Linked DNA regions of Homo sapiens. The protein of the gene in region 4 purifies or fractionates together with the protein of the main gene of each other region. This does not show direct contact. Each region holds a gene or a part of one and is shown on either strand. Other genes may lie near its edges. The genes, in order: SATB2, KAT14, YEATS2, CRYBG2 and HELZ.

The links.
Region 1: the proteins of CRYBG2 (region 4) and SATB2 purify together in Homo sapiens (affinity purification with mass spectrometry; one large-scale study listed by BioGRID and IntAct). This does not show direct contact.
Region 2: the proteins of CRYBG2 (region 4) and KAT14 purify together in Homo sapiens (affinity purification with mass spectrometry; one large-scale study listed by BioGRID and IntAct). This does not show direct contact.
Region 3: the proteins of CRYBG2 (region 4) and YEATS2 purify together in Homo sapiens (affinity purification with mass spectrometry; one large-scale study listed by BioGRID and IntAct). This does not show direct contact.
Region 5: the proteins of CRYBG2 (region 4) and HELZ purify together in Homo sapiens (affinity purification with mass spectrometry; one large-scale study listed by BioGRID and IntAct). This does not show direct contact.

What each region holds. Positions count from the first base shown.
Region 1 is NC_000002.12:199,346,433-199,349,953, forward strand, and holds part of SATB2 (DNA-binding protein SATB2), read right to left. Parts: intron 2,742-3,521; coding exon 2,269-2,741; intron 1-2,268. UniProt on the Homo sapiens protein: Binds to DNA, at nuclear matrix- or scaffold-associated regions. Thought to recognize the sugar-phosphate structure of double-stranded DNA.
Region 2 is NC_000020.11:18,182,851-18,185,707, forward strand, and holds part of KAT14 (cysteine-rich protein 2-binding protein), read left to right. Parts: intron 1-272; coding exon 273-448; intron 449-1,751; coding exon 1,752-1,942; intron 1,943-2,857. UniProt on the Homo sapiens protein: Component of the ATAC complex, a complex with histone acetyltransferase activity on histones H3 and H4. May function as a scaffold for the ATAC complex to promote ATAC complex stability. Has also weak histone acetyltransferase activity toward histone H4.
Region 3 is NC_000003.12:183,704,276-183,707,796, reverse strand, and holds part of YEATS2 (YEATS domain-containing protein 2), read right to left. Parts: intron 1-3,521. UniProt on the Homo sapiens protein: Chromatin reader component of the ATAC complex, a complex with histone acetyltransferase activity on histones H3 and H4. YEATS2 specifically recognizes and binds histone H3 crotonylated at 'Lys-27' (H3K27cr).
Region 4 is NC_000001.11:26,326,614-26,330,134, reverse strand, and holds part of CRYBG2 (beta/gamma crystallin domain-containing protein 2), read left to right. Parts: intron 1-1,261; coding exon 1,262-1,401; intron 1,402-1,802; coding exon 1,803-1,926; intron 1,927-3,521.
Region 5 is NC_000017.11:67,102,188-67,105,708, reverse strand, and holds part of HELZ (probable helicase with zinc finger domain), read left to right. Parts: intron 1-3,521. UniProt on the Homo sapiens protein: May act as a helicase that plays a role in RNA metabolism in multiple tissues and organs within the developing embryo.

The DNA.
Region 1 (3,521 bases), on a different chromosome or scaffold from region 4:
CCACCGCACCCAGCACAAAAACTCATTTTTCAATGACTCATTAATCATACGACAATTTCAAAACTAATAAAAATTTAAATCGCCTACATAATAGAAATACATTTCAATTCAACCAGAGATCCAACACACTTTCGAATAAAGAGAGAAAAAATGTATTAACTGACTTAACAAAAACGCTATTTATTTAACTCACGCAGTATTGCTTAAAGAGTATCTACAAAATTCTTACCTCAATGTTTTCTTGCAAGAGACGTGGAAACCAAAAGTAAACAGACCCTCTTTAACAATGAACCACTGATAAACATAAAATATTTATAACTGGTATAACATTTCACTTAGGTGCATTTTTTGAGTGTTAACTTGCATCAGGCAATCCAATTTACCAACATTTATCAGATTTCTCCCCAGTGAGAGTTTTCACTTAACTTTTTTTTTTTTTTTTTTTTTTTTGAGATGGAGTTTCACTCTCACTCAGGCTGGAGTGCAGTGGCATGATCTCGGCTCACTGCAGCCTCCGCCTCCTGGGTTCAAGGGATTCTTCTGCCTCAGCCTCCTGAGTAGCTGAGACTACAGGCACGCATCACCACGCCCAGCTAATTTTTTTGTTTTGTTCTGTTTTAGTAGAGATGGTGTTTTACCATCTTGCCCAGGCTGGTCTTGAACTCCTGACCTCAAGTGATCCGCCCACCTTGGCCTCCCAAAGTGCTAGGACTACAGACATGAGCCACTGTGCCCAGCCCCTTAACTTCTGAAGTAATCATTAAATTTGGAAACATTCCTGTATTTTCCAAATTATTGAGGTTTCAATCCAGCATGCTTTCTTTCATTTGTAAGGTCCATCTACAGCGTGTGTTATCATGTGTCTCTGAACAGGTATCAGATAAATGAAAGCATTCCTACATTCTGTACGTTCACAGGGTTTTTCTCAGAAATCAGTTGTTTTATGTCTTCAAATTATTCCTGCATTTTTTAACTCAACATCTTTCCTATGAATGTCTTTACCTTAAAATAATAATCTTCTTCTTCATCATCTTTGCCTGCTGTACTTTATTAATCCTTCAAGGTCTAACCCATTGACAACCTAATACTCTAGAGTGTTGTTTACATATGTGCTTGCCCATTATCTTTTTCCTCTTTGCACCCACATAGAGCTTAGCTTCCTGCCTTGCATTTACGAGGGTGCTGAAATTTTAATCTACTGTTTTCTTGAAGGCTTACCATATTCATTCTCCTGGAAGTATTCCTCACCTCCAGCTCACCATGAACCTCCACCACAACTATTGCTTACACTCTCCAACATTACTCATAACACTTCACATTTTACTCTAATTATCTGGTTACCTGGTTTTCACCACTAGATCGTTAGCTCCCCGAGATTATGCACATCTGCTTTGTTCTTACTCATATAAGGGCTAGGTAAGTTTTTCTCAACATGCGGCCCCGGATCAGTACCATCATAATCACCTGGGATCTTGTTAGAAATGTCCATTTCTGAGTCCAACCTCAGACTTACTCAATCAGAAACTATGGGATGAGGCCCAGCAGTCTGTGTTTCACAGCCCTCCAGGTGATTCTGATGCACACTCCAGTTTAAGAACTACTAGCAGAAAAGAATGTCTTACATATAAGCACCCTCAATAAAAATAAGACGTGTGAATTAACTGTTTACATTTTCAACATTTAGTGTTATAATTGGCATATAATTCTCTCAAACATTAAAAATAAAAGTAAACTATCCATTATCATTTTATCAATATCTTAAATCTAACTTTTATGTTTTGAAGGATTTTTATAAATTTTTAAATAAAACTTTACTTATAAAATTATAAAACATAATTTTATTTCTTTTATAACGTTCAAAACCAAGGGAAAAAAATAGATTGTCTGGGCATGCATAGTTTTATAATTTGTTTTAAAAAATGGCAAGAGACTGATAATCACAAAATTCAAGATCAGGGTTACATCTGCAAACAGTAAATGGAGAGGATGAGAGAGTACATACCCAAGTCATTAGTAACATTTGGGGTCCTGAGTTGCATGTTGGGTTCAAAGATGTCCATTACCTCATCAAAATTAATCAATTAGTTAATTAATCATGGTCATGCATGGATCAATGGTAATAGCGTTTCATTAACTAAGGATTATTAATTAATCTAATTCTATGTCCTGAGATCCATAAAGCTTTTTAAAGAGATAAAAATAATTATAACCTATCTCAATTCTGTCCCCAGTATTACTGTTAATTACAGTGTTTAATGCTAATTGTACCTGTGTGCGGTTGAATGCCACTCTTGCAAAGACAGCTTGGGACACACTGGCCCTCTTCAGCTCATCTCTGACTTGCTGGTAGATATCTGGAGAGACTTCCACGGAAGAGTTGGTTGGCTCTGGCTTAACTGCTCTGGGGATGGGTGGATGGTTCAGGAACTGCTGGTTGATGGCTTGAGGATGCTGGTGAGCCAGGAGCCGGCTAACGGCAATCTGTTGGTTTATCAGATGGGCCATGGCTATTTGTTGCCTTACAAGTTGTGGACTAAGCTGGGGAGAAAGAAGACCAGGGCTCATGATGGGCTGTAATGCGGGCACTTGGTTTCGGATTGGAGTACTGTGGTGAATTTGGCTGTGAGGAGACTGTTCGTTGGTTTTCCCCAGGGATGCCAGCTGGTTCATATTTGGTAAATGCATTGGACGCTGGCCCAGAACACAATAGTCTGAAAGGTTTTCTCGTTCCACTCTTTCCACTGTTAAGAGATAAAAGTGATAATTAATCATTATTTTCATTGGTACAATTTATTGCTAATATATGTAGAACTGAATTATCATACTTTTGGCATGTTAATAATATAAACATTTTTTCATACAACGATGGAAGCTCCAGCATAAAAGTGATATTCTTTTCTGCTAAATGTTACAATAGATTTTTTTCATGGAACATATGAAAGAAAGTAAAATTATTTGCCACTTCAATTAGTTAAAATTCTTAAAAGTAAGCATTTCTTTAAATAGCCAAGACAGAAACCACTGACCATTCTAAATCCTCTTAGATCCCCCAAGCTCTATCATCTCCCCAATCAACCTTTGTTATAAAAGCACCAGCTGTTCCTATCTTCTGTAGTATGTAGTTAATGGTTATCAGGAAATGACAAGGATAACATCTCCTGCCAAATTAAGTGCTACCTTCTAGTAAAAAGCTCACATAAATATTATTATACAGCTATGGAAATGTTCATTTAAAAATGTCTGCCACATAGTATATCCATTTATTGACTCACTTGCTATCTTTTTTATAGAAATGTTTCTTTAAGAAATTGATATTTTAAACATTGTGCTATGCACTCAGATAAGAAAAAAAATCACAAAATTAATAACATCACCTCAACTTGCCATTAAATGAAGTTCTCCTCAGGTTATCTGCTTTATTACATTATATTGTGCTTTAATAAAGATTAAAAGAATAACTTTGAAAGGGAAAAGTAAGTATCATATATATACAAGCATAAGGCAAGTATTTTTCTTTCCCT
Region 2 (2,857 bases), on a different chromosome or scaffold from region 4:
GAATCTGATGCTGTATCTGTTTCCTCACTGTTCATGAAGGCACCTAGCACAGTCCCTGGTGGGTACAGAGGGCTTTGGCCTGATGAATGTTCAGAGTGAATTTTAGATTTCATACATAAAAGTATAGCTGTAATCAAGCCAGCTTCGTGTAAAACAGTGCAGGTTACTTTAAAGTTTCAAGCAGATCAAAGAGTTTATATGAGTCAAAAAGCTAGGAATAATACCAGGTATTTTTCTTGACTTGAATTTGTTTATCTTCTGTGGTACCGGAGGCGTGATTATGAAACAAAGCCACCCAAACTGCAGCTCCTGTCACAGATTCGTTCCCACCTGCACAGGAGCGACCCTCACTGGACGCCGGAGCCCGACGCACCTCTCGATTACTGTTATGTGCGGCCAAATCACATCCCAACGATCAACTCCATGTGTCAGGAGTTTTTTTGGCCTGGTATGTTCCCCCTCCCAAACCAGGCAGGTCATTTTTCTGTACAGTCCATTCTAGCAATTTTTAAAATTAGTTTATGTGATATCCTTAAGATTTTTATTTATGATTTCGTTTAGTTTGTCTCTGCTAACATGGAAATATTAAAATACAAATACCTCTTGCTTTCCCAAAATCTAGAAGAAGCCAGCAATAAACAGTGTTTTTGTTTGTTTCTCTTCCCTGTTTGTCTCTGTTTCCAGAGTAAAAGATTCATCCTGTTTTGCTTCTGCATATGTTTAGATACCAGGTAATGTCTATCAAAGATACACAGACTGGTAGCTTGGGCGTGTTTGGACACTTTTGTTTTTGGCTTAATAATTCTTTATGTTTTGTTTATTTAGCTGTTCCTTAGAGAGTATTAGTACAGCCAGAAGGTGTTTTTTAAAAGCCAAATGCCCTGATCACAGACTGAGAATAAGGGTAAACCCAATATAATTTGTCATTTTATCAGCCTTAACAAAATTGCCTCTGAAGACCAAAGTCATTAATTAAAGGAACACATTTGCATTGCTAAATATAAACTATTCTTTGTGGATCTGCTTTCCCACGCTGCCTTGAAACCTAAAGGAAATAATACATGTCTTTCAGATGTTAGATACGATTTCATCAAGATAGAGCTGTGTCGTCTTTATTGTCACATAATCACATAACTGTGAATGTGGTGGCAGAGCTGCACTCATTCTTTTGGGAGTCATACTGAGCCAAAAGTAACATTCTGGGAGCATCTCCTGCTTCCTGCCCTTATGTTAGGTGCCTTCCATACATTATGCACAGAAGCATATTTTACTTATTTATTGTGAAAGGTAGCATTTGTACAAAAGAACTTATAAATTATATGTGTGGGGGGTAAAGGATGTGATAGAACACGCTCGGAGGATCTTTACTTAACCCTGTCAGGTCTAGGTATGCTCTTCATCTTACATATTGCAGAAACGGAGTCTCTGAGACATTTTGAAATGTGCCAAGCCACACATGGTAGAGGAGGCTGAGTTCAAAGCCAGCTGTGTCCAATTCTGAACCCGTGCACTGCTACCTACCCTATTCTGCCACTCTTCTTTTAGGAAATACTATGTAATTTCAATATTTTCTAAAATTCACTCTTATTTTTATGATCTGGTTGTGTGGTCTCTATGTTACCTCCAGTTTTGGTGTTTTTTTTTTTTTTTTTTAGCATGCAGGTGTAGCTATATGTACATGCTGAACAGCTTGGTGTTCCTTAATTCTCAAAGGCATGTGGTTTGAGTCTCCGATGGTTTCTTTTCTTTAGGCATTGACCTGTCTGAGTGTCTGCAGTACCCAGACTTCAGTGTTGTTGTTCTTTATAAAAAAGTCATCATTGCCTTTGGCTTCATGGTTCCTGATGTGAAATACAATGAAGCTTACATTTCATTTCTGTTCGTCCACCCTGAATGGAGAAGAGCAGGGATTGCAACTTTCATGATCTATCATCTGATTCAGGTAAGTTGTCTATGTTTATGATTTATCACCTGTGTCTGGGCTCCCCTGAACAACCTGGAGGAGGAATGAAGCTGAGCTAGCCCTTCCCAGCATGGCCCAATGGAATGGTTTCCTTGTAAACCAAGTGAAGAAAGCCAGTCATCAGCATTCATGAGGTTATCAAAGCACACAGTCAAAAATCTTCGACCCTCTAAAATAAGATTATTATTCAGACTCAGGTTTCATAGAAACCAGTTTGTGAACATGTGTATAAATAAAATGAGAAAATACCAAAAGCAAGAGCTTTAGGGTGGACTATTCATATTAGTAGTAGCTACTGCTCTTAGGATCATCACCTTCGCAACTCAGAGAAGTGAGGGTAGGACTATTATTTTTATTTTTTTAAATATTTGTAAACATTTTAGCACAACTGTATCAATAAGAATATGTATATATTTTTTGAGACAGGGTCTCATTCTGTCACCCAGACTGGAGTTGCACAATCATAGCTCACTGCAGCCTCAACCTCCTGGGCTCGAGTGATTTTCCCGCCTCAGCCTTCTGGGTAGCCAGGACCACAGGTGCACACTGCCATGCCCGGCTGATTTTTTGTAGGGACAGGGTCTCACTGTGTTGCCTGGTCTGTGCTTGAACTCCTTGGTTCAAGCAATCCTTCCACCTCAGCCTCCCGAGTGCTGGGATTATGGGCATGAGCCACTGTGCCTAGCTACATATTTTATTTTTGCTGATAGTTTGTAATTTTACTATCACTGTATAAGGCTGATATGAACCTTCTAAGATTTGATTCTAGTATTGAATTATAATTCATCCTTTAATATATTTGTATCACCTTTGAAGAAAATACACCATATATCACCATCAAAAAACATGCAAGGATTTTTTTCCCCTAGAATTTTTTTTAGTCAACTTTTACTT
Region 3 (3,521 bases), on a different chromosome or scaffold from region 4:
CAGGAGAATTGCTTGAACCCGGGAGGCAGAGGTTGCAGTGATCCGAGATTGCGCCACTGCACTCCAGCCTGGGTGACAGAGTGAGACTTCGTCTCAAAAAAAAAAAAAAAAAAAAAAATAGGTGGGGAAGGGGAGTAGTACAATCATTTTCTATCTGCTTCCATACAGACAGGCATTCCTAAGATGCTGATAATGATTTCATAGTTCCTGGCCCTGTCCTTTCTACAGTCTTAAAAGAAAATACATTCTCTTTTGTAAACAAGACAACCAGTGTTCCTTTATTAAATATCTGAATAAGACTCTACAATCCATTTTCCATTAGCCAATGACATTTCAAAAATGTCTCAAAAGTCCAAACCAGAGGAATGGACGAACAAATCGTGGTATACTCAATGAACTCTTGATGCAGGCAACAACAGAAATGAACCTCAAAATCATTATGGCAAGCCAAAGAAGGCAAACACAAGAGTACAAGCTAAATTATCCCACTTAAGTTCTAGAAGAGACAAATTAATCTATAGTGAAAGAAATGAGAATCATAGTTGGAGGTGCTGGTGTTAGGGACTGACTGGGAAGAGGAATGAAGACTTTTTTCTTAGAAATATTTTATTCAGGTTGAGTATTCCTTACCCAAGATGCCTGGGACCAGAACTGTTTCAGATTTCATACTGTTTTGGATTTTGGAATATTTGCATATACATAGTAAGATATCTTTGGGAAGGAACCCAAATCTAAACATGAAATTCATTTACGCTTCATAAATATCTTACACACAGAGCCTGAAGGTAATTTTATACAACATTTTAAATAATTCAAAACATAACACAAAGTTTTGACTATGTTTTAACTGACCAGTCACAAGGTCAGGTGTGAAATTTTCCACTGTGGCATCATGTTGGTGCTTAAGAAGTTTCAGATTTTGGAGCATTTAAGATTCAGATTTTTGGATTACCAATGCTCCACCTAACTTTTTTTTTTTTGAGACAGAGTTTCGCTCTTGTTGTCCAGGCTGGAGTGCAATGGCACAATCTCAGCTCGCGGCAACCTCCGCCTCCCGGGTTCAAGCGATTCTCCTGCCTCAGCCTCCTGGGTAGCTGGGATTACAAGTATGCGCCACCGCGCCGGGCTAATTTTGTATTTTTAGTAGAGACGGGGTTTCTCCATGTTGGTCATGCTGGTCTCGAACTCCCGATCTCAGGTGATCTGCCCGTCTTGGCCTCCCACAGTGCTCCACTAATCTTAATAAGAGTGTAGGTTAGATGGGTATGTATATCCAATTGCAAAAACACCCAACTGTACACGCAAAATCTGTATTTCACTGTCTGTAAACTATACCTCACTTTAGAAAAGGACAATAAGAATATTTTTCTGATCATGTCATCCCCTGCTTGAATCCTTCAAATAGCTTTTCATAACATTTAGAACAAATTTCCATTCCTTAACATGACCTAAGAGATGTGAACTGCGCCCTGTCTCCCTCTCCATCCTTAATCTTTAAGATCCAGACAGGTTGGTTTTCTATCCCTCAAATATACTCCCAATTTTCCTTTGAGCTTTTGGAATCATGGCTCCTTCTATCTGGAATGCTCTTTTCTTAGGTTAGCTTAATCAGATTCCAGCTGAAATCTCCCCCTTATCAGGGGCCTTCCTTGACCGTGCCCCATCCAACACAGCTCTCCCTACCTTCTCCCTCCAAAGTTCCTGGAAGTGCTCAATATTACTATCTGGAAAAATAAATGAAGGATTTTTTTTTTTTTTTTGAAACAGTCTTGCTCTGTCACCCAGGATGGAGTGCAGTGGTGCGATCTTGGCTCACTACAAGCTCCGCCTCCCGGGTCAGGCCATTCTCCTGCCTCAGCCTCCCGAGTAGCTGGGACTACAGGCGCCCGCCACCATGCCTGGCTAATTTTTTTGCATTTTTACTAAAGATGGAGTTCCACCATGTTAGCCAGGATGGTCTCGATCTCCTCAACTCGTGATCTGCCTGCCCCGGCCTCCCAAAGTGCTGGGATTAGAGGCGTGAGCCACTGCGCCCAGCCATAAATGAAGGATTAACTAAAATATCTGCCAAAATATAAATGACCACAGGGAACATAACTACTACCTTACATTAGTTTTCATCATTAATCTATTTGTTGATATTGCTACATCTTTAAAGGCTCTTTAGCTAAATGTTTAAAAGAATGTACAAAGTTATTATACACAGACACATGCAAACAAAAAGACAGTAAGCAAGGCAATATTAATAATAGAATTCAAGGCAAAAAAAATAACATGATAAAGATGATGTTATTAAAGGCACAATCACAAAAATACATCTTAAACTATACATCCAACAATATAGTATCAAAATACATACAACAAACAGAAAAAGGAAAGTTTAAGAAATCACACATCTCTATATAAAATTTAAAAGATTAAGACAATTTATAAAAATACAGATGATAGGCCGGGCGTGGTGGCTCACGCTTGTAATCCCAGCAGTTTGGGAAGTTGAGGCAGGTGACTCGCTTGAGCTCAGGAGTTCAAGACCACCCTGGGCAACACAGTGAAACCCTGTCTCTACAAACAATACAAAAATTAGTTAGGAGTAGTGGCAAGCACCTGTACTCCCAGCTACTTGGGCAGCTGAGGTAGGAGGATTGCTTGAGCCCAGGAGATGGAGCCTGCAGTTAAGCTGAGATCGCGCCGTTGCACCTCCAGCCTGGGTGACAGAGCCAGACCCCGTCTCAAACAAAACAAACACAACAAACAAAAAAGATGATATAGATATATATCTGGTAATTAACAAGCCAGAATTAACAAATACACACAACTCTGAACCCAACAGAAAAAAATCTTTTAAAAATATCTATAAAAGTTCATTAAGGTCGGATGCAGTGGCTCATGCCTGTAATCCCAGCATTTTGGGAGTCCAAGGTGGGTGGATCACTTGAGGACAGGAGTTTGAAACTAGCCTGGCCAATGTGGTAAAACCCCGTCTCTACTAAAAATACAAAAATTAGCTGGGCATAGTTGTGGATACCTGTAATCCCAGCTACTTGGGAGGCTGAGGCAGGAGAACTGCTGAACCCAGGAAGTGGAGGTTGCAGTGAGCCGAAATCACGCCACTGCACTCCAGCCTGGGCAACAGAGTGAGACTCTGTCTCAAAAAAAAAAAAGTTCATAAAATGTAAATCATACAGTAAGATATGAAGAAAGTCTCAAATTACTGCAAAATGTAGAAATATTACAGCCACATTCTGATCTTAATAAAAATTAATATTAGCTCACCATGATATGGAAAATAAGACACTCTTCTAATAACTCATGACTCAAAGAAGAAATTAAAACTAAAGTAACAGACTATTTAAAAACTAACGAGAACACAGTATCTCCAAACCTATGGAAATGTGGTCAAAAGTCACCATCAGAGGAAAATGGCAAACAAGCTTTCACTGCAAATACACATACAAATCCAATCCAGCAGGGTATTAAAAGCATAATGCATCATAACTGGAAAGTTTTATTGCCAGCAACAG
Region 4 (3,521 bases):
TCAGTATTATTATTGTTGTTATTGTTATCATGAAGATGAAAAGGAGAAATCTAGAATGAAGCCAAGTGCAGTGGCTTGTACCTATAATTCTAGCACTTTGGGCCGGGCGTGTTGGCTCACGCCTGTAGTTCCAGCACTTTGGGAAGCCAAGGCGGGCAGATCATGAGGTCAGGAGTTTGAGACTAGCCTGGCCAACATGATGAAACCCCGTCTCTACAAAAATTAGCCGGGCATGATGGCACATGCCTGTAATCCCAGCTACTTGGGAGGCTGAAGCAGGAGAATTGCTTGAACTTAAAAAGTGGAGGTTACAGTGAGCTGAGATTGCGCCACTGCACTCCAGCCTGGGTGACAGAGTGAGACTCCATCTCAAAAAAATAAAGTAAATAAATTATAGCACTTCAGCAGGCTAAGGCAGGAGGATCACTTGAGCCTAGGAGTTTGAGACCTGCCTGGGCAACATGGTGAGACCCTGTCTCTACAAAAAATTAGCTGGGCATGGTAGCATGTGCCTGTAGTCTCAGCTACTCAGGAGGCTGAGGTGGGAGGATTGCTTTAGCCCAGGAAGTTGAGGCTACAGTGAGCCGTGATTGCACCACTGCACTCCAGCCTGGGCAACAGAGCGAGACCCTATCTCAAAAAAAAAAAAAAAAAATCTAAGCTGCGCATGGTGGCTCACCCCTGTAATCCCAGCACTTTGGCAGGCCAAGGAGGCAGATCGCCTGAGGTCAGGAGTTTGAGACCAGCCAGACTAACATGGCGAAAGCCTGTCTCTACTAAAAGTACAAAAATTAGCCGGGGATGGTGGTGCGTGCCTGTAATCCCAGCTACTCAGGAGGCTGAGGCAGAAGAATTGTTTGAACCCGGGAGGCAGAGGTTGCAGTGAGCCAATATCGCGCCACTGTACTGCAGCCTGGGTGACAAGAGTGAGACTCTGTCTCAAAAAAAAAAAAAAAAAAAAGCCTAGAATAAGCCCCAGGTTTCCATCCTGGCTCAGAGTGCCAGGTTAGTTCTGAGAAGTGCTATTTACTGGAGAGGAGGTTTGAGGGGGAAACTGGGGACCCAGCCTAGCGCTTACTGCCTCTGAGAATCAGGAGCACTCGGCTGGCAGCGTCCAAGAATCAGTGGCCCTGCAGAACTGAGCTCAGGAGGGAAGAAGGCCTGACATACAGATCTGGGAGTCAGGGTGTCTGGGATTGTGGGGCTGCGTCTGGGACTTGGGCTCTCAGAGCCTCACCCTCTTCTGTCTCCTGGGCCCCAGCACTTTTCAGAGCCTTCCATTTTCCTGTATGGACTCGAGTGCTTCGAGGGGAAGGAGATCGAGCTCAGCAGGGAGGTGCGGAGCCTGCAAGCCGAGGGCTTCAACAACCATGTGCTGTCTGTGCGGATCAAGGGGGGCATGTGAGTGCTGAGGGGAGGCATGGGTGCGGTGGCTGCTGGTGGGGATGAGTCATGGCAAGACAGAGATCCTGGGGGTCTCTGGCCTCTTTCCCCTCCCCACTTTTCCCCCACTCCCCTCCAAGCCAGGAAGGAGGGAGAAGTGCGGACTGAGAAGGGTCACTGGCTCTCAGGGCTTAGACCCCAGCTTGGTGGGCTTCTCAGGATCCTTCTTTACCCTGAAAACCCCAAATCTACTTCCCAGCCTCCCTCTCCGCCCTGGGAACCCTATTCCAGGCAGAGGAATCCCTCCATGGGAGAAGAGGAGGTGGAGAACGTTTTGACGTCTGTGTCTCCTCCTCCACCTGTCTGTCTGTCTGTGTGTCTGTGCTCTTCTCTGTGTCCCTGACACCTGCTGGGCCCAGTTGGGTGCTATGTGAACACAGTGACTTCCGGGGCCGCCAGTGGCTGGTGGGAAGCTGCGAGATCACCAACTGGCTGACCTACAGCGGCACCCAGAGGGTGGGCTCCCTCTACCCCATCAAGCAGGTGGGTAGCGTGGCTGGAGCTGAGCGTGTCTGGGGCTGAGCGTGTCTGGGCAGGCCTTTCTGGATGAGTGTCTAGCTGTGTGTTTCCCAAACACAGCATTTGTGTACTTTTGTCACAACTTTTGCCACATCGTCATTCCTCTTGAGCCATTGTCTACTTAATATTTTTCTCTAGATTAACTCTCTTTTTAAAAGTCTTTTAATTAATTTTTATTTCTTAAAAAAAGCTTTTTTTTCTCTTTCTTTTTCTTTTTTTTTTTTGTGTGACAGAGTCTTGCTCTGCCACAAAGGCTGGAGCGCAGTGGCAACATCCTGGCTCACTGCAGCCTCCACCTCCCGGGTTTAAGTGCTTCTTGTGCCTCAGCCTCCCAAGTAACTGGGACCACAGGCACGTGCTACCACGCTCAGCTAATTTTTGTATTTTTAGTAGAGGCAGGGTTTCACCATGTTGGCCAGACTGGTCTCCAATTCCTGACCTCAAGTGATCCACCTGCCTCGGCCTCCCAAAGTGCTGGGATTACAGACGTGAGCCACCATGCCCAGCCCTTTTTTTTTTTTTTGAGATGGAGTTTTGGTCTTGTTGCCCAGGTTGGAGTGCAATGGCACGATCTCGGCTCACTGCAACCTCCGCTTCCCAGATTCAAGTGATTCTCCTACCTCATCCTCCGAAGTAGCTGGGATTACAAGTATGTGCCACCACATCTGGCTAATTTTTGGTTTTTTTTTTTGTTTTTTGTTTTTTGAGACGGAATCTCGCACTGTCACCTGGGCTGAAGTGCAATGGCGTGATCTCGGCTCACTGCAACCTCTGCCCCCTGGGTTCAAGCAATTCTCCTGCGTCAGACTCCCAAGTAGCTGGGATTACAGGTGCCTGCCACCACACCCGGCTAATTTTTTGTATTTTTAGTAGAGACGAGGTTTCACTGTAATTGGCCAGGTTGGTCTCGAACGCCTGACTTGTGATCTGCCCACTTCGGCCTCCCAGAGTGCTGGGATTACAGGCATGAGCCACTGCGCCTAGCTAATTTTTGTATTTTTAGTAGAGATGGGGTTTCATCATGTTGGCCAGGCTGGTCTTGAACTCCTGACCTCATGTGATCTGCCCACCTTGGCCTCCCAAAGTGTTGGGATTACAGGCATGAACCACTGTGCCCAGCCCCAGCCCAGTTTTTATTTAGCTTTCTGAGTCTGTGCTTGTGCCTTCAACACTTTCATAAGGATTTTTAGCTGCTGCATAAGGAAAGCAGGCTTGATCCTGCCACGAACACATTTAGCATACCTGGAACCACCATAGGCCCTCCTGACATGTTTTTTGTTTTGGACAATCTCATAAGAACTTTAGACCTCACAACATGAACCCCTTGAAGTCTGCCTGGGCACACGCCACATGCAGATTTTGGTGCTTTCCCAACTTTGTAGGTATAGAGGTCAACAATTCTATTACGAGGGGCTCAGGACAGCCTAGTTTTGTTAGAGGCTGTACCGTAGGAAAGCCTATGACAATATGTCAAATGCTGGAACATTCTCAGTGCCTCTAGACAATATCCCCAGAAGAGGAAAAAGAAAAAAATCACATTTTTTTTAACTTTATCCTTG
Region 5 (3,521 bases), on a different chromosome or scaffold from region 4:
ACAGTCTTTCAGATTATAATGAACAGTAGTTTTACAACTGATCAGTAATGTAATTTTCAGTTAAGTGATGTTTTAGCTATTTATAATAAAATTCACATAAAAGTCACCATTTTAGCCATTTTAAATTGTACAATTTGGTGGATTTTAGTGTATTCACAATGTTATACAGTCATCACTACTGTCTAATTCCAGAACATTTCATCACCCATAAAAGAAACCCCATAACTGTTAAGCAATTACACCCCAATTTCCCCACTCTCAGATTAGTAACCACTAATCTACTTTCTGTGTCTATGGAGACATTTCATAAAAATTGAGTCATACATTATGTGGCCTTTTATATCTGGCTTTTGAAGTGCATCCACACTGTAACTTAGGAGTGGAGTTCTTGGGTGATGTAGTAAGTCTATGTTTAACTTTTTGAGGAACTGCAAACTGTGTTCTCTGCACATTTATATTCCCACAGCTATGTATGAGGATTCCAATTTCTCTATATACTCGCTTTGTAAAAAAAATTATAACCATCCTAATGGGTGTGTAGTAGGATCTCATTGTAGTGTTGTTTGTTTGTTTTTTGACACGGAGTCGCACTCAGTCGCCCAGGCTGGAGCGCAGTGGCATGATCTTGGCTCACTGCAACCTCTGCCTTCTAGGTTCAAGCAATTCTCTTGCCTCAGGCTCCTGAGTAGCTGGGACTACAGGCGCCCACCACCACACCCAGCTAATTTTGTTGTTGTTGTTGTTGTATTTTTAGTAGAGACGGGGTTTCACGATATTGGCCAGGCTGGTCTCAAACTCCTGACCTCAGGTGATCCGCCCCCAGCCTCCCAAAGTGCTGGGATTACAGGCGTAAGCCACCGCGCCCAGCCCTCACTGTAGTTTTGATTTGCATTTCCCTATTTACTGATGATGTTGACATCTTTGCATGTGCTTCTTGGTCATTTGTATCTTTTTTGGAGAAATGTCTATTCATATGCTTCAGCCATTTAAAAAAATGGTTATTTTTTTGTTACTTAGTTATAAGAGGTTTTTTTTAATGTATTCTGGTACAGACTCTTAATCTCATATATGATTTGCAATTATTTCTCTCACTGTGTGGGTTGTCTTTTCACTTTCTTGATAGTGTCCTTTGATGCTAAACTACAATTTATCTATTTTTTTCTTTGGCTGCTTATGCTTTTGGTGTCATATCCAAGAAACCCTGGCCTAATCCAAGATGGCAAAGATGTACTTTTACATTTCCTTTTTATAGTTGTTTGTTTTTTTTTTTGAAATGGCGTCTCGCTCTGTTGCACAGGCTGGAGTGCAGTGGCGCCATCTCGGCTCACTGCAAGCTCCGCCTCCCGGGTTCACGCCATTCTGCTGCCTCACCCTCCGGAATAGCTGGAACTACAGGTGTCCACCACCACACCCGGCTAATTTTTTTTGTATTTTTTTTAGTAGATACGGGGTTTCACCATGTTAGCCAGGATAGTCTCAATCTCCTGACCTCGTGATCTGCTCGCCTCGGCCTCCCAAAGTGCTGGGATTACAGGCTTGAGCCACCGCACCCGGCCCCTTTTTATAGTTTTATAGTTTTACCTCTTACACTTGGTTCTTAGTTCTTTGGTCCATTTTGAGTTAATTTTTGTATATTGTGTGAGGTGGGTATCAAATTCATTCTTTTGCATGTGGCCATACAGTTTTCTCAGCACCGCTTTTGAAAAGACTCCTTTCCCCCATTGAATAGTCTTGGCAACATTGTCAAAAATCAGTTGACTGTAGATGCTGGGTTTATTTGTGGATTCTCCATTGTATTTCATTTATCTGTGTGTCTGTCTTTCTGCCAGTACCACACTGTATTGTACACTGTAGTATTGTAGTAAGTTTTGGAATTGGAAGTATGAGTCCTTATATTTTGTTCTTTTGGAAGATTGTTTTGGCTATTCTGGGTTCCTTGAATTTTCTCATGTGAGGTTTAGGATCAGCTTACTAATTTCTTCAGAAAAAAAGCCAGCTGACATTTAAAAAAAGAATTGCTTTAAATCTCTAGATTAATTTGGGGAGTATTGCAACCTTAACAATATTAAGTCTTCGAGTACCTGAACATGGACATCTTTCTATTTGTTCAGGACGCTTAACATTTCTTTCAACAGTATTTTGTAATTTTCCAAGTATAAGTCTTGCACTTCTTTTGTTAAATTTATTCCTAAGCATTTTATTCTTTCTCATGCTATCATAAATGGAATTGTTTTCTTAATTTCATTTTTTGATTGTTCATTGCTAGTGTTTAACCACATGATGATATATTGATTGTGTATCTGCAATCTTGCTGAACTCTATTAACAGATTTTTTTGTAGATATCTTAGGCTTTTTTATATGGAAGATAATGTCATCTACAAATAAAAATAGTTTCATTCTTCCTTTCCAATCTGAATGCCTTTTATTTCTTTTTCTTGCTTAATTCTTGATTGTTTTTCTGGTTGCCACAAGCTTTTAATTAGGTTTCTAGGTTCCCAAAAAATGGATTATGACAGCTTTTGCCAATTTTTTTCTGTTTTTATGGAGGGATGGACTTTGGAGTTTCTCACTCTGCCATTTTTGCTGATATCACTTATGATGTTTTTATTTAACCTGCCAAATGAGTTCATGATATGAGGGGGAACTGTGTGCCAAAGTTTTTATAGGTTTTATGAAGTTTTGTACTTTACTAAATAATACTTCATATTGAATAATCTACTTTAGTCATTGATCTTTTTAAATGGGCCTTAATTTTGGAATTTAAGCTTTTTGTACCTTGGTGCTCTTAATGTCTGATATTTCTGTTATCTTTGTTTGTGTGTGAATAAGTACCTTTCATTGTCAGTGGGTTCTTAGAGTGAAATTTACTTTTGCAAAAACATTTGGTCAGTTTTATTTTGTTGCATGAGATTCACAAATGAGTGATTTACTGACAACACTGAAAAATTTATTTGACAAAGATAATATTTTTTTAGCACATTGCAGATTTTCACATTTTCAGTGTATTAGGGTAACTTTAGTCTGTTCAAAATGCTTTTGCATGAATCATCTCACAAAGTGAATGATTGATGTGCTTGCTGTTTATTTCCAACCTTTTAAAATAATTTCTTTAACGTTAACAACAAAGAAAAGGCTTTTCCCTCCCACTATGGATCCTTTTATTCCCAGAAAACTTAGTAGATTAATCTTGTGGGATGATATCTGGATGTTAGTGTAACAGTTCATTTAAATGGAAATGGTTGGTTACATTATGTTTCACTTGTTTTTTCTTTTTATAGTAATTTTGATTTTCTTGTGACAAATGAAATACATGGCCAGCACAGAAAATGTAGAAGTTAGAGAAATTATTTATAATTTAACTAGACAAAGATACCTACTATAACATTTAGCCTTTCCTAGCATTTATAGATGTGAATGTATGATCCATTAATGGAGGGAGATTATTTGTTGGGAAAACTTGAAACAATTTCTCTCTGCCCTTCCCCCAATTGCTATGCCCACCTATATCACCACTGAATGG